2 separate regions of the Homo sapiens genome follow, and region 1 is linked to region 2. The links come from fine-mapping of genetic effects on gene expression. A gene starts in region 2. The other region holds a variant in brackets. All regions are shown on one strand. Distances are between the middles of the regions.

The links.
Region 1: its variant is fine-mapped to the expression of MOK in subcutaneous fat (GTEx, PIP 0.91).

The regions. Positions count from the first base shown.
Region 1 is chr14:102,229,482-102,240,190 of GRCh38, reverse strand. MOK (MOK protein kinase) reads left to right here. Exons shown (of 12, transcript NM_014226.3): 8 at 6,402-6,503; 9 at 7,483-7,656; 10 at 8,370-8,484; 11 at 10,534-10,709. Among named protein-coding and RNA genes, the nearest start is that of MOK, 70 kb to the left of the region's middle. RefSeq lists an enhancer at 8,576-9,076. The variant G/C (reference allele first, on the strand shown) is at 5,540.
Region 2 is chr14:102,297,664-102,314,302 of GRCh38, reverse strand. It overlaps MOK (MOK protein kinase), which reads left to right and starts at 9,139. Exons shown (of 12, transcript NM_014226.3): 1 at 9,139-9,341. The coding sequence starts at 9,335. RefSeq lists enhancers at 1-120, 8,920-8,969, 8,736-9,258.

The DNA of each region.
Region 1 (10,709 bases), 71 kb after region 2:
ATAGGATTTGGGTAGGTAGTGGAAAATTACAGTCAAAGGGGGTTGTTCTCTGGCGGGCAGGGGCTAGGGGATCACAAGGTGCTCAGTGTGGAAGCTTCTGAGCCAGGAGAAGGAATTTCACAAGGTAATGTCATCAGTTAAGGCAGGGCTGGCCATTTTCACTTCTTTTGTGATTCTTCACTTGCTTCGGGCCATCTGGATGTATACTGCAGGCTTGGGCTCAGAGGCCTGACAGTAAGGATGACCTGGAAAGGGCCTTCCCATTTTGGTTTAAGGCTGGTTGGGTTAAGGGTTTTTTTTTGTTTGATTTTTGTTTTTTGTTTTGAGACAGAGTCCTGCCCTGTCGCCAGGCTGGAGTGCAGGGCACAATCTCAGCTCACTGCAACCTTTGCCTCCCAGGTTCAAGTGATTCTCCTGCCTCAGCCTCCCGAGTAGCTGGGACTACAGGTGCCTGCCACCATGCCCGGCTAATTTTTGTATTTTTAGTAGAGAAGGGGTTTCACCATGTTGGCCAGGATGGTCTCAATCTCTTGACCTTGTGATTCACCAGGCTTGGCCTCCCACTGTACTGGGATTACAGGCGTGAGCCACTGTGCCCAGCCGGGTTAAGGGTTTTTAGAAAAACATGTTCTCCTGGTAGGAGGGTCTGGTCAGTGAGGCCTTTATGTGGTATTGGGAGGGCCTGGTGTGCCTGTTTGCAGAGGAGATGGCGGATGAGGGAGAGTGCTGGGAGGTACTCTCCTAATTGAGAATCAGAAGGAGGCCTGTTTTGTAAGAGGAAAGGGTCTCAGAAGGAGGCCTGTTTTGTAAGAGGAAAGGGCATCCATACATTAATTCAAATGGGCTGAGGAAGGAGGGTGCCTTTGGGCTGGCTCTGACGCTGGCTAGAGCTATGGGTAGGAGGGAAGTCCAGGGCCTCTGGACTTCTAGAGTGAGTTTGATCAACTGAGTGTTAAGGTTTCCATTTGCCCTTTCGACTTTTCCTGATGATTGGGGTCGATATGGGATATGGAGGTGCCACTGGATGCTGAGGGACTGGGAGAGCTGTTGGGTGATTTGGGAAATGAAGCCAGGGCCATTGTCTGATTGATTGGAGCGAGGGAGACCAAAGCTAGGGATGATTTCTCTTGTGGGGATCTGGGAGACTACTGCAGCTTTTTCTGAAGAGGTAGGAAATGCCTCCACCCACCCAGAGAAGATGTCTATAAGAGTGAGAAGTAGTCTTGTGTTTTTGACGGGAGGCATGTGGGTGAAGTCTATTTGCCAGTCTTCCCCTGGGAGTGTTCCTCTTAGCTGGTGTGTAGGAATAGATGGGGAATGGAGGGCTCCTTGAGAGGAGGTGACAGAGCATATATGACATTTTGAAGTTATACTTTTTAGTGAGGTAAATAGGTGAGGGGAGAAGAAATATGGGCGGAGGAGGAGATATAGGGGACATGCACCAATATGGAAGGATTGGTGGAGAGATGTCAGGATTTTGTCGGTTTGGCCCTGGGGAAGGTCTAGCTTCTGGTCCTTATCTATCCAGTCCCCCTGGAGGAAGGCTCCTTGTTATAGTAATGAGGCTTTTTCAGTGGGGGGTACTGAGGTTGGACTGCAGGGGTAATGAGGAGGAGGGAGGCAGGAGCGGAAGAAAGGGAGGCTTCTTTTGCTGCCCCATTGGTCTTTCTGTTGCCTCTTGAGATTTTATCTGTTCCTGTGTGATGTCCCCAACAGTGTATAACTCCTGCCTCAGTTGGGAGATGTGCGGCTTGAAGGAGTTGGTAAATAAGGGGGTGGTTAGTGATAGGGTCACTTTGGCAGTAAGGAATCTCCTCTCTTGCCAGATGGTGGCGTGGGAATGAAGAATGTGATATACATCTTTGGAGTCTGTGTAAGTGTTGACTCGTTTGCCTTTGGAAAGGGTTAGGGCTCTGGTGAGAGCTATGAATTCTGCTTTTTGAGAGGAGGTTCCTGGAGGTAGGGGCTTAGCTTCAATTACTCGGTCAAGGGAAACAACTGCATACCCAGCAATTTTGGGGGAGCCAGTGGGCCCAGAAGGGGGGCCATCTATAAATAGCTGGTCATCGGGGTTGGTGAGAGGCTCGGAGGAAATGTTAGGAAAGTGTGGCTGCAGGTGATCTAGGACGTCAGTGCAAGAATGAGTAGGAAGGGAAGAAGATACAGGGAGTAAGGATGCTGGGTTGAAGGGAGCACTTTTGGCAAGACCGAATTCAGGATTTTTGATAGAGGGCATGGAGTAATTGAATCCGGAAAGGAGGGAGCCTCATGCTCGGGAGGAGAGGAGATCCTGTAGATTATGAGGACTGTAGGTGGTGGTATTTTGACTCAATGTTAGTTTCCTGCTTACAGCTAAAGTGGCCGCTGCTGCTAGCATTCTAAGACAGGTTGGCCATCCTCTGACTGTGTTGTCTAACTGTTTAGAGAGGTAGGCTACAGGGGCAAAGGAAGGAGGGTCTCCTTTCTGTTGCCCTAAGACACCGAGGGCTATTCCTCATCTTTTGGCAGTATAGAGTGTGAGAGGTTGGGAGATACCAGGTAAGGACAGAGCTGGTGCAGTGACAAGAGCGGTTTGAAGTTTGCAGAAGTTGGGGAGTATGTTACGTGAGGGATTTAGAGGCTCACTGAGAGGGCCTTTGGCTGCTTCATAGAGTGGGTGAGCTAGGAGGGCAAAGTTGGGAATCCATATTCTAAAAAAGCCTGCTAGTTCTAGGAAGGAAAGAACTTCGCTTTTGGAGGAGGGCGAGGGCAGATTATCTATTAGTGCTGCTAGGGCAGGGGTCATAGCCCGGGTCCCAGGGGAAAGTTGAACTCCTAGGTAAGTTACTATGGAGGTGGAAAGTTGAGCTTCGGAGGGGGAGACTCTATACCCTTTGATGGAGAGAAAGTTTTAAGAGAGTAACTGTGTGAGTTTGAGAGTCTTCTAGAGAGGGGCTGCAAAGGAGAAGATTGTCCACGTATTGAAGGAGACGGCTAGGGAAAAGGTTTAAGGAAGTGAGATCTTGAGCTAAAGCTTGTCCAAAGAAGTGAGGGTTATCTCTGAAGCCTTGAGGGAGGACAGTCCAGGTTAGTTGTTGTGACTGGAGGGTGTCAAGGTCGGTCCAGGTGAAAGCAAAGAGGTTTTGGGAATCAGGGTGCAGGGGAATAGTAAAAAAAGTCATCTTTTAGGTCAATAGCAGTGTAGCAGGTGGTGTTGGAGGGAATGAGACAGAGAAGTGTAGAGGGGTTAGGGACTATGGGATGAATAGGAAAGACAGCCTGACTGATGGCTCGGAGGTCTTGCAGGAGTCGGTATGAGCCGTCTGATTTTTTAACCAGGAGGATGGTGGTGTTATATGAAGAACGTGTTGGCCTAAGAAGACGGCGTGAACAGAGCTTGTTTGTGATGGGCTGTAAGCCTTTTTGGTGGGTTAGGGAGATAGGGTTTTTGGGGATGCTGGGAAATTTAGAGAGGTCTTTTAACTGGATTTTGATGGGGTCGTGGTGAGTAGCTAGGGAAGGGGTGGTGGTGTCCCACCCTGTTGGGTTTACAAAAGAGGTGGGAAGTGGGTACTGGGGAGAGGGGTCAGGGGCTGGACTCGCATAGAGGAGTAGGAGGGACTCCGGTTGAGGGAGGGAGAAAAAGGTGATAGAAGCTTTGAATTTGGCCAAAATTTGAATTTGAATTTGGCTTTGAATTTGGCCTAGGATGGGGGTAGGGCAACGAGGCATGATAAGGAAAGAGTGTGGGAAAACAGTATCAAACAGAGAGCAAGTAAGGGGTCTGGTGGCGCGTGGACGCAAGATGAGTCCATCAGCCCCCACAACTGAGACCTGAGAGGGATGAGTGGGTCCTGAAAATTCAGGCAAAGCTGAGTAGGTGGCCCCGCTATCAATTTAAAAAGAGATCGGCTTACCTGCTACTCGCAGAGTTACCCTGGGCTCCAATGCAGTGATGGCAGATGGGGCCGGGGGCCCTGGGCCCGGTCAGTCCTCAGCGGCTAGGCTGAGGAGCTGCGGGAATGCAAGCGGTTCTTCACTTTTTGTCTTGTTAAAGGGGTGGTGGCTCTGAGGAGCAGGCTTGTCTGTCTGTTGAGAGGACAGTCGGACTTCCAGTGGCCTGTCTGCTGGCACACTGGACAAGGACTCTTTGGCACTCAAGGGTTAGGATACACCCATGCCCAGTGGCCTTCTTTGCCACACTTAAAACAAGGCCCGGAGGGTTGCTGCTATCGGGTCTTTTGTGCCCTTGGGTGATACGGCTGGGTTGATGGACAGCCGCTGCTAGAAGCTGGTATTTAGCACGATCTCTTTGGGCTTTATCTAATTTATTTTGCTCATCCCTGTTATTAAAGACTTTGAAAGCCAAGTTAAGGAGGTCTCGTTGTGGGGTCTGAGGGGCATCTTCAGCCTTTTTAAGTTTGCGCCAGATGTCGGGGGCAGATTGGGAAATAAAATGGATGTAAAGAACAATAGTTCCTTCCCGGGAGGCGGGATCGACACGCGTGTATTTTTGGAGAGTCTCTGTAAGGCGAGAAAGGAATTGGGCAGGGTTTTCATTGGCCTTTTGGGAGATTCCTTTGAGTTTTTCGAAATTTACAGCCTTATGGGCAGTTTTGTTAAGGCCTGCAGTGAGGCAAGTAATCATATGATTACAGGAGGTCTGGCAGGGGCCTGTGGGTTGATACGCCCAGGTACGCTCTTCTCAGGGAACTGCAGCGGCCCCTACTGGCCTAGTAGGATCTTGCCGATGGAGGTCATCGGCATGGGCCTGGGCTGCAAGCCACACTCTTTCCTTTTCTTCCGGAAGGAGGGTAGAAGACAAAATAATATAGAGATCATGCCAAGTAAGTTCATAAGACTGGGTGAGATATTTAAATTATTTGATGTAAGTGTCGGGATCGGAGAAGAACCTGGACGTTTCTCAATTTGGGAAACATTAGAGAGGGAAAATGGGACGTGGACACGGACCATCCCTTCGGCCCATGCCACTTCCCGGAGAAGAAGCAAGGGAGCAGGCTGCTGGGCGTGTTGGGCTCGAGAACGAGTAAGGGGTGGAGATGGGGAGGACTCAGAGTCGGAGGTGGGGTGGTTGGAGAGAAGGGGAGAGAGAGGTAGAGCCGGAGCGGAGGCATACGGTGGGGGGTCATGCTGTTCCGGTGGAGGATTAGGATGTTGTCGAGGAGGGGAGAAATCGGTGGGATCAAAGAAGGAGAAGTCGTCCGCTGGGGCTATTGGGATGAGGGGAGCAGGAGGTGAGTCGGGTTTGGAGCAGGCGAGGAGAATTTGAAAAGTACAGCAGGACTGGCAGAGGGAGGGACGACTACAGAGAGTAAAGAAAGCCTGAACATGAGGAATCTCAGACCACTTCCCACTGCGGTGGCAAAAGTTGTCTAAGTCTCTGAGCATGTCGGAATCGAAAGTGCCATTTTCAGGCCATTGGGAGCCATGGTCTGATTTGTATTGAGGCCATGTGGTGTTACAGTAAAAGATAAGCCTTTTAGGGCAGATTTCTGAACGGAGGCCAAGAGTATACAGATTGTGTAGGAGGCACCCAAGG[G/C]GGGTAGTTTTAGGAGGAATAGACTGAGAGGCTCCCATAGTGAATGGAAGGGAGGGGGGTAGAGGAAGAAGAGACTGCCGGTGACGTCCCCTTTCCCGCGGAACTTGTCAGGAATAGAGGAGGTAACCACCGTGTCAGGCGTCCCTGAAACGGAGGAACCAGAGGCCTGGAGGCTGGAGGAAGCCCTTGGCCCAGCGCTGGGTCTTTCGGAAATGGGAGATGGACGGTCAAGAGTTCAGGGAATGGCAACAGTCTCTTTTTACTCACCCTGGCGGAGGCTTTGATGGTGGATGAAGTCACCAGCAATGGGAGAGTCTAGGAGATTGTCTGGGTCTTTGGCAGGTTCGGGGAAGGGGAGATTGGCCAGGAGAGGGGTGATAGGGGAGGGAGGGAGAGAGAGAGAAAAAGAGAGAGAGAGAGAGATTGATAGTGAGCGAGTCCTGGCCAGAGTCTATCCCCCTTCCCGGGTTTCGGCACCAGAATGTTAGGTCATCCGAGAGAAAGGAAAAATTGACCTAAAGTCAGGCAAGCAAGTTTTTATTAACCTGCCACCGGCCGCTTAACAGTCAGAGGAAGCAGCCCCAAGCTTACAGATTGAGGGGTTTATATTGGGGAAGGGAGTTTGAGGGAGTTCTTCGGTATGGTCACATCCCGGGGTTGTTTGCTGGTTAATTTTGCCACATATCACCTTGTGATGTTTACGGTAGCAGCTAGATGAACAGCAGGAACTTACAGAAGGGTGTAGGTAAAGTTTGTTTATGCTTCCCACGATCTCCCCTTGTGCGGTCCAGATGGTTTGTAATTGGTGAGGTCTGTTGGCTCTGCCCTAACACTGACCACAGTGCCCCTTCTGCCCTTCCAGTCTGCAGCCCCTCTTTCCTGGAGTAAATGAACTGGACCAAATCTCAAAAATCCACGATGTCATCGGCACACCCGCTCAGAAGATCCTCACCAAGTTCAAACAGTAAGTATTGTGTTCTGAGAGTGGATGTGGACCCACTCCCCTGCTAGGACCTGCAGCAGGGCAAGCCCCTCCCTGTGCCTCCCTCAAACCCCTCTCAGGAGCTCCTTTGGCTGACTACAGGGGTTCAAGTTCACTTGAGGGCCAGTGAGTGGCTGCTCAGACAGAGCCCATCACTTTAAGTGGTCTCAAAGGTGAGCTCTTCCTTGAGCATCACAGAAAGATTTGTCACAGGCTTTCTGAGGGCTGGGGAGTCAGGCTGTGTTCCCTGAGTAATTTAAACAGGACTTAGAAGCCTTTGGGTGGAAACGTTCCCCAAGCACAGAGCATAGGTGGTGAGGGCTTTCTGCAGCCCTCCACAGCCCTGCTGGCGGGACCGACGCCTGGAAGAGGTGTTCCCGGACTCTTAGGGTCATTCTGGTGAAGCTGAGGCTGGGAGTTGGGACTTCCCAGGGAGGGCCTGTGGGCTGAGGGGCAAGTAGCACCCAGCGGCCCCCACATCCCAGGGAGGGAGAAGGTGGCAACCATTTTGGACTCTTCTTTTTTTGTTAAATTTTATTTCATTCTTCTCATGTGGGAAGGTGATATTAATCTTTTATAGGAAAGGTAGTTTTCTTACATTTTTAGCATAACAGATCCCCCCCTTTATAATAGACTATTTTTAAATAGATTTTTTTAAGAGCAGTTTTAGGTTTCCATAGAGCCCTGTCCCCATGTGCACACAGCCTCCCCTGTCGTCAGCACCTGCCTCGAGTGGTGTGTTTATTATGGTCGATGAACCGTGGATATCTCATTACTACACAGAGCCCATCATTTACATCAGGGGTCCCTCTTGGTGGTGCACGTTCTGTGGGCTGGGACAGGTGTAGACTCTGCAGTCATAAACCATTCCCCACCACACAGGGCCCTTAGTTGTGACAGTGGACCACCGGTGCGCTCAGTGACAGCATGACCATTTATTATCATTGGGTTTTTAATACAGGTCGAGAGCTATGAATTTTGATTTTCCTTTTAAAAAGGGATCAGGAATACCTCTACTAACAACCAATTTGTCCCCACAATGCCTCTCCCTCCTGCACGCAATGGTGGCCTATGATCCCGATGAGAGAATCGCCGCCCACCAGGCCCTGCAGCACCCCTACTTCCAAGAACAGAGGTAGGCACTCTCGTGGGTTCGGTGGGGCAGATGCAGGACCTGGCAAATGAGACCCATGGGCACATGGTGGGGCAAGGTACTGCCCCCTGGAGGGTCCCTGGTTCTTGGGAATCGCGCTCTCTATCCTGAAGAGTGGTCAGGGCCTCTTGGGGCCCACACCGTGCTGCCTTCTGGTGTATCCTCCCCAAAATGAGGATGTTAGCAGCTCCACGGCAGGAGAAAGAGGGGCTGGCTGTCCACTTTGCGGTTGATGCCAAGGCTACAGGTAGTAATCCTTCTAGAAGAGCCTGGTGTGCGGCCCTTGTAAATGGTGTGAACAGGATGCATTCTGAGATGGTAGAGCACTGTGGATGTCACCTGGCGCTGGAAGTACCTGCTGAATGTGAATCTAAGACCTGTCTGCCCTGAGGTCACCTAATTCCGGACCTCTGGACACTCCTGTTTGCCTAACTGTGGAGGTGACAGTTTGATCTGAAACTGCGAGTCCCTGGGTAGGCAGCGCTTCTGATTCATGGAGCCAGCTCTGTTCCTGGCCCAGAGACTGTCAGGCTGAGACAGAAAAGAAAAAAAAAGGCTCCTGATTACAGCTCAGGCAGAAAAGAAGAGCTAGTGACAACTCACACAGTAGACAAATTGGAGACAAAGAAGCCAGTAGGCCGTGTGCTCTGCGGGCTCTCAGTGGAGCTGCTCCATTCTCTTCTCCTTCCCCGTAGGAAAACAGAGAAGCGGGCTCTGGGCAGCCACAGAAAAGCTGGCTTTCCGGAGCACCCTGTGGCACCGGAACCACTCAGTAACAGCTGCCAGATTTCCAAGGAGGGCAGAAAGCAGGTACTAAGCGAAATCGGAGCCGGAGACTGCCTAGCTCAGCCGGGACTGGATGCCCTCGGGTGGCCTGTGTCTCTCTCAGGAGGACGCCACCTGTGGAGGCTGTGGCAGACCACATTGTCAGTCGAGGCCTGAACAGCATGCGAGTTGATGGCTCCATGTGTTGGGACATCAGGGACCCCAGTTCTATTTGCTCAAGCCCTTTCTGCCCCAGTAGCTAAGAATTGATGACGAATATCCCATGTGAGCAGGCCCAGAGAGGGGATGTTTGCATGAACTTTTGTGTCTGTCCTGATGACCATATGCAGGTGCCAGGTTCTATGCCAAAGCACCGTGCAGACATCGCCCCTCAGAACGGCCCTGGAGGGAGGCGCCAAGAAGATGCAATGCTGGCCCAAGTCACCCACCCAGCCAGTGACAGGTCTCAAGTCACTGTCTCTGCCTGGCTCCAGATGAGCACTTCGTCCCATCAGCAGAGGTTGTGCACATTTTCGGTTGAGAAATGCCAGCTTTGCCCCTCAGTGCCTTCACCTTCCCACCTACCGTGTGGCATCCTAGCCTGGTGCAGCCCTGTGTCACCTGCTGGCAGGGTCACACCAGTCTCCCAGTTCTGGGCTGGCACCCCAACAGTGTGACAGTGTGCCCTTCCATCATTCGTCTGTTCGGTCGTCCGTACGTCACTCGCTCCTCCCAGCCTTTACCGAGTGCTCCCTGACCGCTTGGGAGCTGGGAACCCAGAGCTGCAGTCAGGCTGCTCTCCAGAAAGCCAGGCTCCTGTGTCCCATTGGTCCCTGATTTGACAGCTCCACTTGAATGTCCGAAAGACAGACTTGCTGAAACCCCTTCTCCTGATCTTTCCCCAAACGTGCTTTTTCCCTGTGGCTTCCCATGGCCTTCCCTCCGAGGGAGGCAACTCCGTCAACTGCCCAGGCCCCCCGTGGACCCTTCCTTCATCCCACAGGGGCTTCGCCTTCTTGCCTCCTACATCCTCCTCACCTTGCCTAAGTCACCACAGATGGCCTCCTCACTACTGTCCCTGCTCTGCCTCCGCTCCCTCCTGGACAGAGGGTCTGCTTCAAACCCTTGATGTCACTCCTGGCCGGCATTCACCCAAGTCCCCACCCTCAGTCACATCCGAGGTCGGCATATTTTTCTCTAAGGGTCTGATAGGAAATATTTTAGGCCCCGTGGCCGTGGGGTGTTCGTTACACTCCCTGCTTTGCTGCAGTGTGAAAGGAGCTGGAGGCAACACATGAACCACATAGGGGCTGCGTTCCAGTAGAACTGGGGACACTAAAATTTGAATTTCACATAATTTTCACATGCCATGAAACATTTTTTTTTCAGTCATTAAAAATAAAAACCAGGTGGGTGCGGTGGCTCACACCTGTAAACCCAGTGCTTAGGGAGGCCAGGGTAGGATCACTTGAGGCCAGGAGTTTGAGACCAGCCTGGGCAACGTAGGCAAGACCACTGCCCCACCACCCCATCTGTTTTAAAAATTAGCTGGGTGTGGTGCGTGCCTTTGGTCCCAGCTACTTGGGAGGCTGAGGCAGGAGGATCGCCTGAGCCTAGGAAGCTGAGGCTACAGTGAGCCAAGATTGCACCACTGCACTCCAGTCTGTGCTACAGAGCAACAAACACCGTGTCTCAAAACAAACAAACAAACAAAAAACCCCAAATGTAAAACCATCCTTAGCTCACAAGCCACCCAAAACCAGGCGACAGGCAGATCAGGGTGTGAGACCTTGGAGCTAGAGCAGGAGGCAGGAGGCGTGGGCACCACAGCCCGCGAGCCCTTTGCCGCCCGCACTGCTCAGCTTGCAGTCGGCATTCTTCAGGTTCCCCCTGAAGGTTTGGCCTCCCCCGTGGGACTCTAGTGGGCAGCCACTCCCTTGGGGTGTCTGGGACCTGGTGGATGTGTCCCAGTCACATCTTATGGTCAAGAAATTGTATTAGGCAAAAGCAGTACAAAAGAGCCTCTTTCGTTTTTCCTAATTTCCATAAAGCAGAAAGCGTTTTATGTCCAACTGGCCTCTGTTCTGTTTCAAGAAACAGTCCCTAAAGCAAGAGGAGGACCGTCCCAAGAGACGAGGACCGGCCTATGTCATGGAACTGCCCAAACTAAAGCTTTCGGGAGTGGTCAGACTGTCGTCTTACTCCAGCCCCACGCTGCAGTCCGTGCTTGGATCTGGAACAAATGGAAGAGTGCCGGTGCTGAGACCCTT
Region 2 (16,639 bases):
GCGGGCGCGGGCGAGCAGTTTTCTTTCCTCCTCTGGACCTCTTCCTCCACTTCTCACCCCGTCTTAGAGCTCTTAGACAAACAAACGCTAATTTTCATTCTCTGAGTGACGAAAACACGAATCTACATACTTTCAGAATTAAGTGGTAGAGAATACCATTCGGGCTTGTTTTCTTGCTTTTGTTTTTGTTTTTGAGACGGAGTCTCGCTCTTGTCGCCCAGACTGGAGCGCAGTGGCGCGATTTCGGCTCACTGCAACCTCCGCCTTGTATTTGTTTTTTGTTTTTTTAATGTGGGGCGGGGGGCCCATGTGCATTTTAAATAATCCATTTTCTTTAAACTCAACTTACGAAATGTTTCATTCTGTTTATAAGTTGGAACCTTTGGTCTGACAGTAACGACCCGCTGTGTTAGTTTCCCAGGTCGGCCACAGCAGAGTATTATAAGGTAGGTGGCCACACAACAGAATATATGGCCTCACAGTTCTAGTAGGCAGACGTCCAAAGTCAGGGTGTCGGGAAGGTCGCTTCCTTCGGAGGCTCCCACGGAGACCGCCCCAGGCTGTCTCCTGGCTTCTGGTGGATTTCGGGCCAACTTTGGCCTTCCTTCGCTTGTAGAAGCTTCACTCTGATCTCTGCCTGCATCTTCACATACTGTTCTCCCTGTGTGTCCCTATGTCCAAATCGCCCCTTTTGTGTAGACGCCAGTCATAATGGACTAAAGTCACTCTGAAGACCTTTTTTTTTTTTTTTTTTTTTTTTTTTAAGACGGAGTTTCCCTCTTGTTGCCCAGGCTGGAGCGCAATGGCGCGATCTTGGCTCGGCTCACTGCAACCTCCGCCTCCCGGGTTCAAGTGATTCTCCTGCCTCAGCCTCCTGAGTAGCTGGGATTACAGGCATTCACCACCACGCCCGGCTAATTTTGTCTTTTTAGTAGAGATGGGGTTTCACCATGTTGGCCAGCCTGGTCTTGAAGTCGTGACCTCAAGTGATCCACCTGCCTTGGCCTGGAAGCACGTACATTATTGCGAAGTTTTGACAAAGTCTCAAAAGTCTTTTTTATTTTGTTTTTGAGATGGAGTTTCGCTCTTGCCACCCAGGCAGGAGTGCAATGGCGTGATCTTGGCTCACTGCAACCTCTGCCTCCTAGGTTCAAGCAATTCTCCTGCCTCAGCCTCCCAAGTAACTGGGATTACAAGCGCCCACCACCAAGCCCAGCTAATTTTTGTATTTTTAGTAGAGACGGGGTTTCACCACGTTGGCAAGACTGATCTTGAACTCCTGACCTCAGGTGATTTGCTCGCCTCAGCCTCCCAAAGTGCCGGGATTTTGGGCGGAGCCACCGCGCCAGGCCCAAAGTCTTTGTTAGATGTAGGAAAGAGCAGTAGAAGGCCAGGCGCAGTGGCTTACACCTATCATCTCAGCACGTTGAGAGGCCTTGGCGAGCAGATCGCTTTAACCTAGGAGTTTGAGACCAGCCTGGACAACTTGGAGAAACTCCATCTCTCCCAAAAATAAATAAACTAATAATAATAATAATAGGCTGGGCGTGGTGACTCACGCCTGTAATCTCAGCACTTTAGGAGGCAGAGGCGGGCAGATCACCTTTGGTCAGGAGTTCAAGACCAGCCTGGCCAATGTGGTGAAACCCTGTCTCTACAAAAATACAAAAATTAGCTGGGCGTGATGGCGGGTGCCTGTAATCCCAGCTACTTGGGAGGCTGAGGCGGGAGAATCGCTTGAACCCGGGAGGTGGAGGTTGTAGTGAGCCGAGATGGGACCACTACACTCCATCCTGGGCAACAGAGCAAGACTCCATCTCAAAAAAAAAATAGCAATAATAATAATAAGCAGTAGAAGACAGGGAACTGGAAGCCACGAACTAGGATCCAAGCCCAGGGGAGCCACCAGCAAGTGAGGAACCTTGGCAAACAAAGCCCTTTTCCTCTCTGGGTCTCCAAGAACAGGCCACATGGCTTCTATAAACTCAAGTAAGCAAGGATTCTCTCTCACCAGCCCGTTTAATTTTATCAAGAGTTAAAGGTTGTCCTGGATCCTCAATAGTCATTTAAAATTGGGCTTGCCCCTGCCAGAAAGGAATGACAGAGCAGGTGACAAGTGGCAGGTGGCATTGCTTCTTGATTATCCAACAAGTATGTATGTATGTATGTATGTATGTATGTATGTATGTATGTATGTATTGAGACAGAGTTTCCCTCCTGTTGCCCGGGCTGGAGTGCAATGGCACAATCTCAGTTCACTGCAACCTCCACCTCCCGGGTTCAAGAGATTCTCCTGCCTCAGCCTCCCGAATAGCTGGAATTACAGGCATGTGCCACCACGCCCGGCTAATTTTGTATTTTTAGTAGAAATGGGGTTTCTCCGTGTTGGTCAGGCTGGTGTCAAACTCCCGACCTCAGGTGATCCTCCAGCCTTGGCCTCCCAAAGTGCTGGGTTTGCAGGCGTGAGCCCCTGTACCTGGCCCCAACAAGTATTTATTGAGCACCTGCTCTGCCAGGCCCTGTGTTAGACTTTGAGTAAAAATCAATGAGCATTTGTAGAGTATTCATCATGGACACGTGGACATCTCATTTAATCTTCTACTACCTTTTACCTTTTTTTTTTTTTTTAGTGACCAAGTTTCACTCTTGTTGCCCAGGCTCGAATGCCATAGCACGATCTTGGCTCACTGCAATCTCTGCCTCCGGGATTCAAGCGATTCACTTGCCTCAGCCTCTCAAGTAGCTGGGAATACAAATGTGTGCCACCATGCCCAGCTAGTTTTTTTGTGTATTTTTAGTGGAGATGGGGTTTCACCTTGTTGGCCAGGCTGGTCTCGAACTCCTGACCTCAGGTGATCCACCAGCCTCGGTCTCCAAAAGTGCTGGGATTACAGGCTTGAGCCACCATGCCCGGCCTTCTACTACCTTTTGTAGTGGGTATTTTTTTTTTTTTTTTTGAGACAAAGTCTTGCTCTGTTGCCCAGGCTGGAGTGCAGTGGTGTGATCTCGGCTCACTGCAACCTCCGCCTCCTGGGTTTGAATGATTCTCCTGCCTCAGCCTCCCAAGTAGCTAGGATTACAGGCGCCCACCACCATGCATGCCCGGCTGATTTTTATATTTTTAGTAGAGACAGTGTTTCACCATGTTGGCCAGGCTGGTCTTGAACTTCGTCTGAAAAAACTCCGTCTCAAAAAAAAAAAAAAAAAGAAAGAAAAAGGCTCACCGGAACCTCCACCTCCCAGGTTCAAGCCATTCTTGAACCTCAGGCAATCCACCCACCTCAGCCTCCCAGAGTGCTGGGATTACAGACGTGAGCCACTGCACCCAGTCTGCAGTGGATATTTTTATCCCTGCTTTACAAAAACAAGAAAACAGCAGTACTACAACTTGGCAGGAGTTACATAGTATGAGTCTCTCTCCTACCACTTTAAGAGCTGAATTTTAAGGCCAGGTGCTGTGGCTCATGCCTGTAATCCCAGCACTTTGGGAGGCAGAGGCGGGCAGATCACAAGGTCAGGAGTTCAAGACTCCACCTGACCAACACAGTGAAACCCCTGTCTCTACTAAAAATACAAAAATTAGCTGGGTGTGGTGGTGGGCGCCTGTAATCCCAGCTACTCCGGAGGCTGAGGCAAAGAATGGCTTGAACCCGGGAGGTGAACGATCCAGTGAGCCTTTTTCTTTTTCTTCTTTTTTTTTTTTTTGAGACGGAGTGTCGCTTTTGTTGCCTAGGCTGGAGTGCAATGGCGTAATCTCGGCTCACTGCAACTTCCACCTCCTGGGTTCAAGCCATTCTCCTGCCTCAGCCTCCTGAGTAGCTGGGATTACACGCATGTGCCGCCATGCCCGGTTAAGTTTGTATTTTTAGTAGAGACGAGGTTTTTCCATGTTGGTCAGGCTGGTGTTGCATTCCCGACCTCGGGTGATCCGCCCTCCTTGGCCTCCCAAAGTGCTGGGATTACAGGTGTGACCCACCGCGCCCAGCCTTCTTTTGTTTTCTTTCCTTTTTTTTCTTCTTTTCTTTTCTTTTTTTTTTTTAAGGAAGGGTCTGGCTCTGTCGCCCAGGCTGAAGTGCAGTGTCACCATCTCGGTTTCCTGCAGCCTCTGCCTCCCAGGCTTAAATGGTCCTCCCACCTCAGCCTCCTGAGCAGCTGGGACTACAGGCATGCACCACCATGCCCAGTTAAGTTTTGCATTTTTTTTTTTTTTTTTGAGACGGTGTCTCCCTCTGTTGCCCAGGCTGGAGTGCAGTGGTGCCATCTTGGCTCACTGCAACCTCCGCCTCCCGGGTTCAAGCAATTCTCTGCCTCAGAGTAGCCAGGATTACAGGTGCCCACCACCACGCCTGGCTAATTTTTTTATAGTTTTAGTAGAGACAGGGTTTCACCATCTTGGCCAGGCTGGTCTTGAACTCCTGACCTTGTGATCTGCCGGCCTCAGCCTCCCAAAGTGCTGGGATTACAGGCATGAGCCACCGCGCCTGGCCAATTTTTGTATTTTTTGTATTATTATTGTTATTTTTTGAGACAACGGCTCTCTCCTGTTGCCCAGGCTGGAGGTCAGTGGTGCAAACATGGCTTATTGCAGCCTCGATTTCCCAGGCTCAGGTGATTCTCCCACTTTAGGCTTCTGAGTAGCTGGGACTGCAGGCACCTGCCACCAAGCCCAGCTAATTTTTTGTATTTTTAGTAGATAAGGGGTTTCACCATGTTGCCTCGGCTGGTCTCGAACCCCTGAGCTCAAGCCATCCGCTTGCCTCGGCCTCCTAAAGTGCTGGGATTACAGGTGTGAGCCACTATTCCTGGCCAGGAAACCTTTTCTTACACTTAAAAAATTCTAAATGTATTTCTTTGAGTTCCTTTTTCTCAGAAACCTACACAGACTTCTTCGTAGACAGAATTTTACCTATTTTTGCATCCACACTAGACCAGGATCTAATTTCTAGAGTGCTTGGTTAACTACCATCCTTCATGTTAATTTCAGTGGCTAATGTTTTTGCTCCTCCTTATTTAATATCCTTGTTCAAGCTTAGTTTTCCCTGAGATGTGTTTATTATTTTACAAAATCAATCTAATTTCTAATATCTTTAGGTAGATTTGCGTTTTACCCACTTTAACAGTGTTAACACGTTTGAAATGTCTGTCATCCCTAGCTTTTCTGACTTGTTTCCTGGTTTGAACCTTAATTCAGATGCTCAGCAGAAGGAAATAGGTTGTCTGCTAAACATAGCCACATGGCTGAATCCCTTGACATTGGCAAATAGGGAAAAACTAATGCTAGAATATGGGATGAACAGTCTGAGGGAGTTTTAGAACGATTCAAAAAGCTCAAGTGGTTATAATTAGGTAGTGTTCATACAGTTTTAAAAGCGGAGCTCTGGAACTGGGCGCGGTGGCTAACGCCTGTAATCCCAGCACTTTGGGAGGCTGAGGCAGGTGAATCACCTGAGGTCAGGAGTTCGAGACCAGCCTGACCAATATGGTGAAACCCCATCTCTACTAAAAATACAAAAATTAGCCAGGTGTGGTGGCACGTGCCTGTAGTCCCAGCTACTTGGGAGGCTGAGACAGGAGAATTGCTTGAACCTGGGAGGCAGAGGTTGTAGTGAGCCGAGATCAAGCCACAGTACTCCAGCCTGCGTGACAGAGCAAGACTCTGTCTCAAAAAAAAAAATTTAAAAATAATAACTTAATAAAAAAAAAAAGCAGAGCTCTGAGATGCGTGGTGGTTCCATTTCACAAGCGTTTCCTGAGCATGTAATATGTGCTGAGCAGGCTCCTGGCTCTGGGTGAGCTGGGCAGGTGAGAGGCTTGGGGTGAAGACCCTCTCTGGAGGAGTTCACAGCCTGGTACTTCTTACTTATCTGTCCATTCAGGGCTGGAGTGGCCCAGCTAGGCAGGTGCTGAGGCCACCCAGCTGAAGCCTGAACAGGTTGACCCCTCCGCTGATGTTTGAGCGTGTTTACCACAGGAAGAGAAGCTCCTCAGCAATTGTTCCTTCTTTTCAAAGCAGCATTTCCTATTTCATTTAGAATTAAAGAAAGAATAAGGAATTCTCTAGGCCAGTGGTTTTCAAAATATGGCCACTGGTGCAGCATCACCTGGAATTTTGTGAGAGCTGCAAACTATCCCCCACTCCAGACTTACAGATTTAGAAATAATGGGGCGGAAATCCCTGATCGAATGGAACATTCTGGAGTTCGTCCCCTCACCCAACCTTAAGATGAACTTGGAACAAGGGTGCTCAGCCAGAGGGGCAGGTGAGGCCGCAAGTCCAGCTGCCCCTGTTCACCTAGGTAAGCACATAGACTGTGTCTACCCCCTGGGGGCACCTTGCTCTAAATCATCTGCCCAATCAGGACCAACATGGTCTCTACAACGTCACTTCTGAGAACCACTTGTCCACAATGAAGGGAAGAAGAAAATCCATCAGCACCTGGTGAATTGGGAAACAATGGGGCTCTCACTTGCTAAATGCATTCACCTGTTCACTTATTTAATACACTCTGCCCTGCAGGGTAGAGAAAAGACACATGAGGGGCCCAAGGAACTTAGAACCCACCTGGTTAGAAGAAACTAACAAGCAAGAGACAGGGTTAGAAATATAAATGTGACATAAGGGCAAGCCCCCAAATAAGAAAGAACACAAGAAGAGAAGAAGGGATAGATCAAATCCTAGTGGTCTGGAGAGATTAGATGTGGCTTCTCAAAGCCAACAAAGATAGCACCACCAACAATAATACACCAGCAATAATCGCTATTTATTTTTTCAACTTTTTTATTGAGAGAAAATTTACATAAAATTCACCATTGTAACCATTTATTTATTTATTATTTTTTGAGATGGAGTCTTGCTCTGTCGCCCAGACTGGAGTGTAGTGGCAGGATCTCGACTCACTGTAGCCTCCACCTCCTGGGTTCAAGTGATTCTCCCGCCTCAGCCTCCTGAGTAGCTGGGATTACAGGAGCGCATCACCACACCTGGCTAATTTTTGTATTTTTAGTAGTGACAGGGTTTCACCATGTTGGTTGGCCAGCTGGTCTCGAATTCCTGACCTCAGTTGGTCCATCCTCCTCGGCCTCCCAAAGTGCTGGGATTATAGGTGTGAGCCACCACGCCTGGCTTGTTTTGTATTTTATTTATGTATTTGCTTTTTTAGACGGAGTCTCACTCTGTCGCCCAGGCTGGAGTGCAGTGGCGCAATCTCGGCTCACTGCAACCTCCGCCTCCCGGGTTCAAGCAATTCTCTGCCTCAGCCTCCCGAGTAGCTGGGATTACAGGTGCCTGCCACCACACCCGGCTCATTTTTCTATTTTCAGTAGAGATGGGGTTTCACCATCTTGGCCAGGCTAGTCTTGAACTCCTGACCTGGGGATCCACCCGCCTTGGCCTCCCAAAGTGCTGGGATTACAGGCATCAGCCACTGTGCCCAGCCGTTTTGTATTTTTTTAGTAGAGACGGGGTTTCCCCCATGTTGGCCAGGCTGGTCTCGAACTCCTGGACTCAAGTGATCTGCCTGCCTCGGCCGCCCAACGTGCTGGGATTGCAGGTGTGAGCCACCGCGACCGGCCGCTTTCTCTTTCTTTCGAGACAAGGTCTTGCTTTGTCACCCAGGCTAGAGTGCAGTGGTGCTATCATAGCTCACTGAGCCTAGAACTCCTGGTCTCAAGATACCTCCGCCTTATTCTCCTGAATAGCTGGGTTTACAGGCATGTGCCACCGTGCCCGGCTTTTTTTTTTTTTTTTTTTTTTTTTTGAGTCTCTTGCTCTGTCGCCCAGGCTGCAGTGCAGGTGGTGCAATCTCGGCTCACTGCAAGCTCCGCCTCCAGGGTTCACGCCATTCTCCTGCCTCAGCCCCCGGAGTAGCTGGAACTATAGCGCCCGCCACTACGCCCGGCTAATTTTTTTTGTATTTTTAGTAGAGATGGGGTTTCACCGTGTTAGCCAGGATGGTCTCGATTTCCTGACCTCGTGATCTGCCCGCCTTGGCCTCCCAAAGTGCTGGGATTACAGGCGTGAGCCACCACGCCCGGAGTTTTTTTTTTTTTTTTTTTAAGAGGGAAGTGGGGTTTCTCTATGTTGCCCAGGCTGGTCTTGAATTTCTGGCCTCAAGCGATCCTCTTGCCTCGGCCTTCCAAAGTGCTGGGATTACAGGTGTGAGCCACCACACCTGGCCAATTCAGTCTTAAACCAATTTTCTGAGGCTTCGTTTTGGCAAGGCTACTTATCTGTTTTAAAAATAAACGATGTATTTTAGTAAAAGAAAAAAAATGGAGGAAAAAACAGGGTTTTGATCTCATGGAATAATTATGAGGCTAATCTAATGAGCTTCATAAAATACTATACCCATACATAGTATGCTTGTTATTTTATTGTTTTGTCAGGGTCCAGAGAACTAGGCCACTGTGTTGCTTAGGCACCGTGTCTGCACATAGTTCATTCCGGTGTACATTCATTCATCTTTACACTAGAATGTTAGTTTCAAGAACTCAGTCACCTCGTCTACACTGTCCTTTAATCCCCAATACCTGCGACAGTTCCTGGGGCAAAAACAAATGCTTGTTGAATTAAAAAGAAAAACTGGGCCGGGCGTGGTGGCTCACGCCTGTAATCCCAGCACTTCGGGAGGCCGAGGCAGGCGGATCACCTGAGGTCAGGAGTTCGAGACCAGCCTAACATGGTGAAACCCCGTCTCTACTAAAAATACAAAAACATTAGCCGGGTGTAGTGGTGGGTGCCTGTAATCCCAGCTACTTGGGAGGCTGAGGCAGGAGAATCGCTTGAAGCCGGGAGGCGGAGGTTGCAGTGAGCCGAGATCACGCCATTGCACCCCAACCTGGGTAACAGAGCGACACTCTGTCTCAAAAAAAAAAAAAAATTCCTGTAGAAGCTCCCAAGCCCAATTAAAGCTCAAGGCTATCGTCCACGTAGTGGGTTCCAAATCGCTAAGTTCCCAGGCCAGCAGGGAGAGCGAGCCGAGCGAAGGTCGCCTGTGTCAAAGGCGGGGATTTGCACAGTATTTACATGGAAGCGGAGGAAAGGCTGCTTAGCAACCGGGCTGAGGGGACGGGCTGCACTGCGCACGCGTACATGGGCGGGGCATCTTGCGCATGCGCAGGCGACAGCTCATGGCGTTCAGGGCCTGACGGTTGCTAGGGTGACAGGGACACAACATGGCGGCGGGATCTCTAACGCTCTCCTTCGAGGGACCACCACGGAGATCCTAGTGCGGGACCCCGCCTCAGGGAAGTGGAAAGCAGGGGGACAACCTTCCTGCTTCTTTCTTTTCCGTCCAGTGTCGGCAAGGGGTTGTCACCGGCTTCCGCATCCAAGATGAAGAGTGAGTGGGGCCGGGGAAAGGGGCAGGGACTGGAGAGCGAGTGGCGGGGGAGGGAGGGACTGGGGGAGCTTGAGGAGCTTGAGGGGCCTGTGGGGCCGGGCGTCGTCGCCTTCTGCCGTGGCTCGACAGGCCCGGGAGGCTCCGCATGTGGGCCCCGAATCCCCCTCGGCTGTGAGAAGCCGGTGCCCCTGGGGGAAGCTTGAGGGGTTGGGGCTAGGTTGGGAACTTTGGGGTCTCGGAGAGCCGACTCGAGTTCCCGCTCAGGCATATTTTGGTGCAGGTGCGTGGTTCTTACATTGGAGTTTAGGGAGTTGACTGTGATTCATTTTATTTTATTTTAAATGCTGGCTTGAACCTGACACTCTTTTCCTGAACATTCGGCAGAAAACGGGGGAGCGCTTACAGCGTGGCTCCCTGCCTTTTCATGATACTGGTTTAGTGACCAATTGAGAGGAAAGCTGGGCTGTGTGCTTTATTTTATTTTTTGGGTCAAGCAGTAGTGTTTTATAGGAACCACTTTTTAATAGTAGTTTTGAAGCAACCTTTTAGTTAAAAGCTGTTACTTCAAAGTTGGGAAATGAGGTAGTCATTCTAGAAAATGTAACGGGTAAAAAATTTTCTTTAGTGGGATTTGTGGATTATTGACAATCCAAGTGCAACCAGCTAGAATGATGTTTTTAAAATTATTATTACTGTACAGATATAATTGTTTATGGTTGTGAACCAGAGGTGCAGTAAAAATTCAGACCTTTGCTGTGAAAATATTATGTTAGGAGTAGTTATAATGTTAAATTTGCATTGTATCCTAATTGTCAATGGTGTACATTGCATAACATTTAAAATAATTAATCTCATTCACCCTTTACAAGGCATTTTTATTTTTATTTTATTTTGTTGGATATTGTTTAATGTTTACCTTTTTCATTAATGCACTACAAAGCTGTAGTTAGAATCCAAGGTCTACAAAAGACTTTACACTTTTACTTACAGTGCAGACTATGATACTGCACATATTTTGTACTATATTCATTTTTTTCTTCCCATCTGTTTGTTTTGAAAATTTTCAGATGTACAGGAAAGTTGCAAGAGCAGTACATTGAATATTTATAAACCCGTCCTTCACTTAGCTGCACCATTTTGCCTTATTTTTGTGTGCTCGCTTTCGCTCTGGTGTTTTCTCTCTCCCATTTATGTATTTATTTTCACTGGACCTTTCAAGAGTTAGTTGTAGACTACTAATAATTCACCACTTCTTTCAGCAGTTATCTGCCAAGAACAAGGACATTCTCCTACATCATCACAGTACAAATAACACATTTAGAAAATTTAACAATGATACAATACTCTGATACACAGTCCATATTTCAGTTTTTCCATTTATCCCAATAACATGTGTTATAGTTGTTTATATTTTTTCTATCCAATCAAGAATCACCAATTGTATTCTGTTGTCATATCTCTTTGGTCTCTTTTAATATGGTGTCCCTGCCTTTTGTGTCTTTCATGACAATGATATTTTCATTTTTATTTGGCTGTCCTCTGTAGGCCAAATGACATTTTTAAAGAATCCAGCCCAGTGTTTTGCAGAATATCGCTCAATTTGGATTTGTCTGATTTTCGCCTCATGATTAGCTTCAGCTTAAATGTTTTTACCAGGAATATGTGAGAGGCAACGTTGTGTCTCTGTCAGTGTGGCCCTTCCAGAGTGCCTGATGTCAGTTCGTTGCAGTTTTGCTGAAGTTAGATTTGATCATTTGGTTTATTTATCTACCTTCTTTTTCTCTTAGACTCTTTTTTTTTTTGGACAGGGTCTCTCTGTGTCACCCTGGCTGGAGTGCAGTGGTGCAATCTTGGCTCACTGCAACCTCTGCCTCCCGGGTTCAAGTGATTCTCCTACCTCAGCCTCCCAAGTAGCTGAGATTACAGGTGTGCACCACCACGCCCAGCTAACTTGTATTTTTTGGTAGAGACGGGGTTTCAACATGTTGGCCAGGCTGGTCTCAAACTCCTGACGTCAAGCGATCCACCCGCCTCAGCCTCCCAAAGTGTTGGAATTACAGACGCGAGCCACTGTGCCTGGCCTTCCTCTTAGACTCTTCATACCCCACTACCTAGAGGCATCACTTTCAGTAATTTACTCTCTCTATATATATTATATATAAATATATAAATGTGTATTTCTCCCTTTTTAAAAGACTAATGTTAGCACTGCATGTGTATACCTATATAGAAATATGTACATATGCTGCCTGGGCGCAGTGGCTCACACCTGTAATGCCAACACTTTGGGAGGCCGAGGCGGGCAGATCACGAGTTCAGGAGATCAATACCATCCCAGCTAACACGGTGAAACCCCGGCTCTACTAAAAATACAAAAAATTAGCCAGGCGTGGTGGTGGGCACCTGTAGTCCCAGCTACTCGGGAGGCTGAGGCAGGAGAATGGCGTGGACCTGGGAGGCAGAGCTTGCAGTGAGCTGAGATCGGGCCACTGTACTGCAGCCTGGGCAACAAAGCAAGAGACTCCGTCTCAAAAAAAAAGAAAATAAATATGTATATATGCGTATATATATATAAAATTTACATTTGTGGGCCGGGTGCAGTGGCTCACGCCTGTAATCCCAGCACTTTGAGAGGCTGAGGTGGGTGGATCACTTGAGGTCAGGAGTTCGAGACCAGCCTGGTCAACATGGTGAAACCCCGTCTCTACTAAAAATACAAAAATTAGTCAGGCGTGGTGGCAGGTGCCTGTAATCCCAGCTACTTGGGAGGCTGAGGCAGGGGAATCGCTTGAACCTGGGAGGGGGGCGTTGCAGTGAGCTGAGATCGCACTACTGCACTCCAGCCTGGGCAACAGAGCAAAAAAAAAAAAAAAAGTATATGTGTGTATACATATAAAATTTACATTTATGGGGCGGGTGCAGTGGCTCACGCCTGTAATCCCAGCACTTCGGGACGCCGAGGTTGGCTGATCACTTGAGGTCAGGAGTTCGAGACCAGCCTGGCCAATGTGGTGAAACCCCATCTCAACCAAAAAATACAAGAAAAAAAAAATCAAAACAAAACAAAATACACAAAAAATGTACATTTATGATTTACTTCTTGTAAACTTTTGTTTTTAAAGTATATTTAGTATTGTTTGGTATGTTCTTTTAGATGGTCATTTTGGTAGTTTTCGGTTACTTGGTTTAGTGGTGACATCTTTATTCTCCCTTTCTTCCTTCTACCTTAAAATGTACTCTAAGAATTATTGTAACCTTTTATCCCCCTGGTTTACATCCTGATCATTAAATAAATGATTTAAAAATAGTTAACAATGGAGAGAATATTCCAGAACTGGAAATCACAGAGACAGAGTTATAGAAGTAGAATGATCAGGAAAAGTGAGTAATGGTGAAATTGGATCCATAGCTTGGGGTCAGAGTGGGGCTGGGAATGCTAGATTATTACAGGGGTCTGTCAGGATTTTCTAGGTATATTTTTGTACTTGTTTTCTAGGTGATGCCCTGTGTTTAGGGGTGTGTTATTCTGTGGAGTATTCCTGTCCTTCTTTTTATTTGGCATCGTTTGCAACAGTAGAGAGCAAAGAGTGACACAGTGCAGTTGATAAGAGCGTGGGCTTTGGAACCGGGTGGGCATGGCAGCTTCAGGCATGTTACTTTTTCTTATACTGCTTTTCTTCATTGTTCCGGTTATCTATTGCTGCGTAACAGATCACTTCAATTTTGTGGCTTAAAGGAACAACAGTCCTTCTTGTGGTTCTTCAGGTTGCCTGGATTCAACTAGGCAGGTCTTACTGGAAGTCTCTCATGCACTCAGATGGTGGCTGGAGCTGAAGTCATCTTAAAAGTTTGTTTTTTATTTTGAGATGGAGTCTCACTCTGTTGGCCAGGCTGGAATGAGTACAGTGGCACAATCTTGGCTCACTGCAACCTCTGCCTCCTGGGTTCAAGCGATTCTCCTGTCTCAGCCTCCTGAGTAGCTGGGATTTTAGGCGCACCACCACACCTGGCTAATTTTTATATTTTGAGTAGAGACGGGGTTTCACCATGTTGTTCAGGCTGGTCAAGAACTCCTGACCTCAGGTGATCCACCTGCCTTGGCCTTCCAAAATGCTGAGATTACAGGTGTGAGCCAGTGTGCCCAGCCCACATTCATCTTTAAACAGGGATGATAATACCAATCACATAGCATTGTTTCAAAGATTAAGTGAAATCATCTATATAAAGCTCATAGCACAGTGTCTGATACATGATAAATTGTGAATGAATTATTATTTGCTATTTCAGCAGATGGAAGGCAGGGATATAAAAAGGGAAAGAATGAAAACATCAGTCAGATCCTGACTTGGAAAAGTTTCCCCTTATCTAGTCTAGTTAAAGTACCACTCTTTTTTCCTGTCTGAACTTTCTTTTTTGTTTGAGATAGAGTCTGTTGCCCAGGCTGGAGTGCTGTGGTGTAGCCACAGCTCACGACAGCCTCCATCTCCTGGGCTCAGGCAATCCTCCCACCTCAGCCTCCTGAGTAGTTAGGACCACAGGCATGTGCCTCCTCGCCCAGCTAATTTTTTTTTTTTTTTGGTGGAGATGGGGTTTTGCTGTGTTGCCCAGCCCAGGCTTTTTTTTTTTTTTTTTTTTTTTGAGATAGAGTTTTGCCCTGTTGCCTAGGCTGGAGTCCAATGGCGCGATCTCGGCTCACTGCAACCTCCACCTCCCGGGTTCAAGTGATTCTTCTGCCTCAGCTTCCCAAATAGCTGGGATTACAGGTGCCTGCCAACATACCTGGCTAAGTTTTGTATTTTTAGTAGAGATCGGGTTTCACCATGCTGGCCAGGCTGGTCTCGAACTCCTGACCTCAGGCAATCTGCCCGCCTTGGCCTCCCAAAGTGCTGGGATTATATGCATGAGCCACTGTGCCCGGCTCCCCGGCTTAAGTTTTTAATTGTTTACTAGAGATGGGGGTCTCCCTATATTGCCCAGGCCGGTCTTGAACTCCTGGATTATAGGCATGAGCCACTGTGCCTGGTCCTGTCTCAACTTTTTAATGAATTATTCAAAACATACCTATAAAAAGAGAAAAGTGGCCAGGCATGGTGGCTCATGTCTGTAAACCCAGCACTTCGAGAGGCTGAGGCAAGAGATTGCTTAAATCCAGGAGTCTGAGACCAGCCTGGGCAACATGACGAGACTCTGTCTCTACTAAATTTAAAAATTGGCCAAGCATGGCAGTGCATGCCTGTGGTCTCAGGTACTCGGGAGGCTGAGGGAGGAGCATTGCTTGAACCCAGGAGTTTGAGGCTGTAGTGAGCTGGGATCACACCACTGCTCTCCAGCCTGGATGTCAAAGGAAGACCCTGTTTCAAAAAAATAAAACAAAAACCCAGAGAAGTTACACTCTGAAGACGGTAACAGTTTGCTATTGTATCAGAGAGAATTTTTCTTTTTTTTTTTGTAGGTAGTCTCACTCTGTTGCCCAGGCTGGAGTGCAGTGGTATGATCTTGGCTCGCTGCAACCTCTGCCTCCAGGGTTCAAGCAATTCTCATGCATCAGCCTCCCGAGTAGCTGGGATTTATAGGTGCAAACCACCACACCTGGTTAATTTTTGTAGTTTTAGTAAAGATGGGGTTTCACCATGTTGGCCAGGTTGGTCTCGAACTCCTGACCTCAGGTGATCTGCCCGCCTCGGCCTCCCAAAGTGCTGGGATTACAGGCGTGAGCCACTGCGTCCGGCCCAGAGAGAATTTTTAAAAGTATCTGTTGTAATTACAATGAGGTTTAAACTGTCTTTTTTTTTTTCCGCCATGGAAAGAGTCAAGTAATTTGTCTTTCTTAAATGCTGGTGTGTCCGCAGTTGGTGGGTTCTTGGTCTCACTGACTTCAAGAACTAAACCTCAGACCCTCACGGTGAGTGTTACAGTTCTTAAAAGCAGTGTGTCTGGAGTTTGTTCCTTCTGAAGTTCAGATGTGTTGAGAGTTTCTTCCTTCTGGTGGGTTCGTGGTCTCACTGGCTTCAGGAGTGAAGCTGCAGACCTTCGCGGTGAGTGTTATCGCTCTGAAGGCGGCGCATCTGGACTTGTTCATTCCTCCTGGTGGGTTCGTGGTCTTGCTGGCCTCAGGAGAGAAGCTACAGACCTTTGCAGTGAGTGTTGCAGCTCATAAAAGCAGCCTGGACCCAAAGAGTGAGTAGCAGCAAGATTTATTTTAAAGGGTGAAAGAACAAAGCTTCCACATTGTGGAAGGGGACTGGAGCATGTTGCCACTGCTGGCTTGGGCAGCCTGCTTTTATTCTCTTATCTGGCACCACCCACATCCTGCTGATTGGTCCATTTTACAGAGAGCCAATTGGTCTGTTTTACAGAGAGCTGATTGGTCCGTTTTGACAGGGTGCTGATTGGTGCGTTTACAATCCCTGAGCTAGACACAAAAGTTCTCCAAGTCCCCGTGAGATCAGCTAGACACAGAGCACTGATTGGTGCATTTGCAAACCTTGAGCTAGATACAGGGTGCTGATTGGTGTGTTTACAAACTTTGAGCTAGATACAGAGTGCTGATTGGTGTATTTACAAACCGTGAGCTAGATACAGGGTGCTGATTGGTGTGTTTACAAACTTTGAGCTAGACACAGAGTACTGATTGGTGTATTTACAATCCCTTAGCTAGACATAAAGGTTCTGCAAGTCCCCACCAGATTAGCTAGATACAGAGTGCTGATTGGTGCATTTACAAACCTTGAGCTAGACACAGAGTGCTGATTGGTGTATTTACAATCCCTTAGTTAGACATAAAGGTTCTCTAAGTCCCCACTAGACTCAGGAGCCCAGCTGGCTTCACCTAGTGGATCCCACACCAGGGCTGCAGGTGGAGCTGCCCGCCAGTCCCACACCATGTGCCTGCACCCCTCAGCCCTTGGGCAGTTGATGGGACTGGGCACCCTGGAGCAGGGGGCGGTGCTCCTCGGGGAGGCTTGGGCTGCGCAGGAGCCCACAGCGGGGGTTGGGAGGCTCAGGCATGGCGGGATGCAGGTCTGAAGCCCTGCCTCGTGGGTAGCAGCTGAGGCCCAGAAAGAATTTGAGCACAGGCAGGGCCGGTGGGCCGGCACTGCAGGGTATCCGGTGCACCCTCAGCAGCTGCTGGCCCGGGTGCTAAACCCGTCACTGCCCGGGGCCAGCAGCACCAGCTGGCCGCACCTAGTGCGGGGCCCGCTGAGCCCACACCCACCCAGAACTCATGCTGGCCCGCAAGCACCACGTGCAGCCCCGGTTCCCGCCTGCACCTCTCCCTCCACACCTCGCGGTGCCTC